Regions from separate parts of the Homo sapiens genome. Here region 1 is linked to region 2. The links come from fine-mapping of genetic effects on gene expression. Tissue or cell type: cerebellum. Region 2 holds a variant in brackets; the other region holds the start of a gene. All regions are shown on one strand. Distances are from middle to middle.

The links. PIP is the estimated chance that this variant, and not a neighbour inherited with it, causes the effect. A credible set is the group of variants that fine-mapping cannot tell apart.
Region 1: MYO5A starts here. The variant in region 2 is the best candidate, but not a certain one, in a credible set for the expression of MYO5A in cerebellum (GTEx, PIP 0.58).

What each region holds. Positions count from the first base shown.
Region 1 is chr15:52,527,555-52,530,218 of GRCh38, forward strand. It overlaps MYO5A (myosin VA), which reads right to left and starts at 1,326. Exons shown (of 42, transcript NM_001382347.1): 1 at 1,226-1,326. The coding sequence starts at 1,252. RefSeq lists a silencer at 976-1,855.
Region 2 is chr15:52,347,038-52,349,882 of GRCh38, forward strand. MYO5A (myosin VA) reads right to left here. Exons shown (of 42, transcript NM_001382347.1): 29 at 1,781-1,789. Among named protein-coding and RNA genes, the nearest start is that of MYO5C, 53 kb to the left of the region's middle. The variant C/T (reference allele first, on the strand shown) is at 1,416.

The DNA.
Region 1 (2,664 bases), 180 kb after region 2:
AAAGCTTTCACAACGATTATTAAGTTTGATTCTCACAACAGCTTGTAAGGGATGCAAGGCAAGTATAATTAACTGCATTTACTCATTAGGAAATCGAACCAGAGATGTTAAGTGACTTGTCCAAGGTCACAGTTAGTAAGTCCCGGCTTGAATCCAGGTCTCTTGATGCCCAGTCTTCTTTCCTCTACAAAACACACTGCAACTTGGGCCCTGGACTTCAGTGACATTTGGAAACAATGATTCCAGTGATTACAGGACCCTAAATGAAAGTTCTGTTGCAAAAGCTAATGTGAAAAGGCAACTCTATTAACTGCATGTAGAAGTAATCAATATCTGGCAAAATATCTACCTACACATGAGTGTACAGTATAAAATGCCATGATTACATATATTCACAAAGGTCATCACAAATCTGCGCAGCACTCAAGTGACAGTTCTCCATAATATGTCATTCAGAGATCGCCAGACCCTGAGTATATTGATGTCAGTCTAAGAAAAGACTGCCACTTCCCTTAAACCAAACCCAGAAGGGAAAGGCTTGCCCCAGAGGATGGTAAAGACATGGAGCCTAACAAGGCTCTGCGGGATTACACGCAGGTTGCAAACTCCCAGCGATAAATGAGTACCGACCCTCCCAGCCGGTGAATCAGCTCGCGTTCATCCGGCAGCATCTTTCCCCGGGGCTCGCCACCCCCAGCGCAGCTAAACTGGGGAGCTAAAGGTGATACGGCCACCGTTTGCAGGATTCAAAATAACCTCACAGAAAGGCTAGCTGGCGGTAGAAGCGGCACTGCATACCAACACAAGACGTTATTTTAAGCGCGTGTCCCCACGAGAGAACCCATCCGATCTACTGGAGCAAGCATCTCCCACCCGCCGGGAATTTTCCAAAGCCAAGCAGGAGGGGAGGCACGCCCGCCCTGCTAAATCCACATGGGCCCCCTTTCCACTCCGAAGCCCGCTCTGCCCCCAGCTCGAGCAGCGCGGCAGGGGCCTGGGAGACCCCCGAGGCGGGCCACCTTCCGCCGCCTTCACCATCTCGCCCGAAAGAGGAAGGTGCCGCAGCGGGCGACCGGCTGGTAGGGCCGAGGGTTCTGAGGCGCTGAAGGGGATGGCGCTGGTGGGGCTCGCCTGGGCCCGGCGCTCCCGCCCCCTCCCCAGCCTGACAGCTGGCGGCGAGGGCCGCACAGCCCCAGTCCTCGACGCCGGCCGCGGGGTGCCTTACCTTTGTGTAGAGCTCCGACGCAGCCATGGCGGGCCCCGCGCGCCTACGCCCCCCGCCTGTGCGGAGGCCGCACCTCGCCTGGGCGGCCGCCCGAGCGGACTAGGAAGCGCCCGCAGCCGCCGGCAGGGAGCAGGGCAGGGCAGGGCCGGGCGGGGAGGGCCGCGCGGGGCGGGGCGGGGCGGGGCGCCTCAGGCGCTGGCCGCCCGCAGGGGCCTCGCCATCACTCCCGGGCTCGCCGCGAGCAGCCGCGAGCGCTCCACCTGCCCGGGGTCCTAGGGGTCGCCGCCGCCGCCGCAGCCACTTCGGCGGCCCGCGATGCTGCCTCCGCTGCCGCCGCCGCCACCGCCGCCGCCCTGTGCATTATGGGAGCGGGAGGAGGCTGCGCTCCAGCGCTGCCACCGCGGCTGCTCTGGGCTCTCTCGGGCTCACGCTGCCTCCCATCGGCTACGAGCACAGAGCATCATCATCATCAGCCTGCCAGCCGGCCCCGCCGCCGCCTCGCGCCCTGCCGAGGCCCGGAAACCCGCCCGGGACGTGAGCCCCGAGGGCGCGGCACACCCCGGGCGCCCCCACCCCGAAGCGAGCCCGGGGCCCTCTGCTGCGGAGCCTAGCTCCCGCGGTAGCGCAGCCATGGCACGGGCTGTTACTGTGTCCGAATAAACGATGGGAGCCTCCAGGCTGCTCCTCCCGTCCTTCCAAGCATTCCTAGGGAGAGGATTTAGGGGAAGCCCTCTTGAAAGACTGTAGAATAACCCAGGACTGTAGAAGAGCCTTGTCAGCAGCAGTGACCCGGGAGATGGGCAATGCAGGACCGGGAATTTCAGGTTAAGGTTGATCACCAAGGTCATTCCGAGCACCTCGATGTCTGCAGCAAAGTCGTCTCCCGATACCAGAGGGCAAGGGCCGCTTCTAAGCTACAGAAACTTAAGTGACTTTGAAACGAGATAGCCCGGGGACAGCCCAGGTGCCTCTTTCCTAGACCTGTGCGTTTGCGGAGATGCAACTACCCTTCTGTCCCAGCCTTCTTCCCGTCCTGTTCGCTGCTGGTGATTGTCGGCTCCATGGTGGCACCTGAAGTTTATCCGGTTGCCACCTGAAAATGACGGAGTACTTACATGGAAAATCTGTATTACAGTTTAACTCAACATCAAAAGGGCAAAGCCGCCCTCACTCTCCTCACGGTGATCCTTGAACATCCAGCACAAGAATGTGGTCTTTCTACTCCCAACCCTGCGCTGTCTTCATCCTCTATCTTCTCCCCACCCTCATTGTCGTTTCTGGTTGAATAATCTTCATTCTTTATTGTTGTCGTTGTTGTTGTTGCTGTTTTTGTTTGTTTAATCCCTGCCTCTTTGTAGTGCCCTCATCTCTCGTTTCTTTGAACTACAACTGGTCCCCAGTGCCTGTCATGGTAATCTGGTAGACCATTTCTATCACGA
Region 2 (2,845 bases):
ATAACATAACATAGTACTTAAGCTTTTGAAATAAACATCTGGCAGGTCAGAATTATTAATTATTTTATATAAGAATAACTTTTTTCCAACATTTTAATTTTCTTTTTAATTTTCTCCGTTTAGTCAAATCTGTCTGACAAGCAATGTAATTTCAAAATCTTCTCCTATTCAGCTACTCTATCTTTCTAGACAAGAGTAAGAGATAAGAATCACTGCTGGCAAACCACAATGGAACATAGTTCCACACATGGAACTATGTAACAAACCTGTATATTCAGTACATGTATCCCAAAACTTAAAGCAAAAAAAGAAACCCTGCTGTGTAGCCTCTAAAAAACAATATACTTCAGAACCCAGTGGCTTTGTCTAAATGGAAACATTTCCACATAAAATTCAACTCAAAAGCTTTTGGACCACATATTTGTCTAAATAGTATATGTCTGATTCTTTAGTAAACATGATCTAAGCTCAGGCCTTGCAATGAAACAGACTTAATAAAATACACTTCAAATACCATGATCTTAAAGACAAGTTCCAAGATAACTTTAATGCCAATCAGAGACTTACAAATGCTTGTTTCTGAATTTCAATGTGTATTTTAAAAATCCTTAAAAAAAATACCACTTTTCTCTTAATGCTATCCTTTTGTAAGTTTATAAATGCTTCCTCTGAGAAGACCAACTATAATCTCATGAAATATACTAATAAATAGTTTACATTTTATTGAATTTTAAAAATCTTTCCCATTAAAACCACAGAGTATTTTTTTTAGCTATGTTTTGTAAATATTTTAGTACCTGTTTTACAAAGAGGTTCTTTTTTCTCTTTCTCTGAAAGGAATAAAATCTTTCTGTTTTATAAAGGGCCATACTCAGATTTTTAAAACCCATAAGTAATAACTTTCAAAGACCCAAGTGTTTACATCAAATAATGCTATCTGTGTGCTCTGGTATCTCAGGACTTACATGGTATGGTTGTGAACTTTTAGCAAATGAGGTAACTTGATCAAATTAACTAATCCAAGAGAAGAAAGGCTTCTTAGTATGCTTCTCTCCTGGGTGGTAAGTCACCAGTTCTTCCCTCATTCTGACTACCTTAGCTAAAAAGTGGCACTTGGGGAATGGGATCAGATTTGGGCCACCAGCATTCAGGAAGTTCCTGATTCACTGCTCAAACTTTGTCTCTCTTAAGCCTGTGACCAGAAGTTCTAAAAGGGTTGTGCTATATAGGAAAATTCCAGCAATATCTGTCACTCAGTACATAGAGAAACAGGGATATGGTAGAGAAATTTGACTTTGCAACCTCGTCAACGAGCCACATTTCATTCTAGCTGTGGACTCTACACTCAGGGAGATGAAAATGGCAGCAAAGAACAGTGTGCTCAGCTCCTCAGGCTCCCCTTCACCCTTAACCAA[C/T]AAGCCCGCCACTGGTAGATATGAGAGCTCAGGAGAGCCTGTGCTTTTGAGTGTACTCCAAGTTAAGGGCTTCCCTCCCCAGCCTGTGGACAGCCTACCAGAACTACGGCAGTGAGTCATAGAGCTGCCTATGAATTAGAAGTCATGGAGTCCCCTCTATAATCTAGACTGGAGCCTACTATAACCACTGTTTCCCTACTGACTTCCCAAATCAGAAGGAGTCAAATCGGAAATTCACTTACAAATTCAAAATATCAAAATAGACTTGGTCAGAAAGCATCAATTGCCTTTATTGGGGGATACTTGTAAACTAAAGTTAGGATTAAATAGAAGTATTTACTAAAAAAAAAAAAAGGTATAATTACCTTGTCATCCTGAGAATCACAAGTCAGCAAGCACAAAAAACAGAGAAAACAATAAACCCTTAGTTCCATAAATAAATTTCATCAATGAGTTCCTATTATAACAGATAAAAGCTAATTTAAAAACAGCCATGAGTTGTTTCTCTAAAATTAACTCTATATATACATTAACATTCCTGGAACTGTCATAAAACAGAGACTAATATATATTTATATGTTGACAACTTCTATTTCCAGGAACAAATGCTTGAAATTCTTTTAAAATTGTTTTGATTTTTCTGGTTATAAAATATCTTTGAGTATGTGAGAGAATGACCCTCCTGTTATTTGTGGGTGAAATTCTTATCGTAGGTCTGTGGAGTTAAAGTTATGTCTCTCACAGAAGTCGTTTGTCCAAGGGAAGATTCCCAGAATACTCTAGAGGTGGAGCCAATACACAAGACCTGCCTGGGCTGGATCATTCCCTAGCTCACAGGGTGTTGCTCACCACTGCCCTGCAATGGAGTGGTGACATGATGTGTCTCTCAGACTAGAAACTGAGTGAGACAAACAGCCCTGGGGAGTCTGGAAGATCTTAATTAGTGTCAAGGGCATTTCTCCTAGGATGGGACACGAGTGCTACCATGTTTAGGCTGGGAGCTGAGGAACTTAGGTACCTCAGTTGGACCGGGTCAGCCCATTAGGGTCAGGAGAGCAGCTGTCACATGGGGTACGTGAGCCGGGCAAGGGAGAATGTGTGATAGCAGAACTATGTGCTCTGTTAGCTGGACTGTTTTTATGTCCTTTGCTTCATTTTTCTTTTCCTTTCTCTTGATTTTTACTAAAATTTCTTGTGAGATTACCACATTGCAACCCCATAAATATATACAATTATTATTTGTCAATTAACATTTTTTTAAGAAAGAATACTAATTTGTCTCAAGAAAACTAGAGAAAGGAATCTTGATTTTGGACTCTGCTCAAGCTAGATTGCAAGCCTTGTTTCTTGAGGCCCAGCCACAGTGGTAGCCAAGGGAACCAACTGTGACAGCCCTGGGGTAAGGTGCAACCTATACGGCAAGCCAAAAT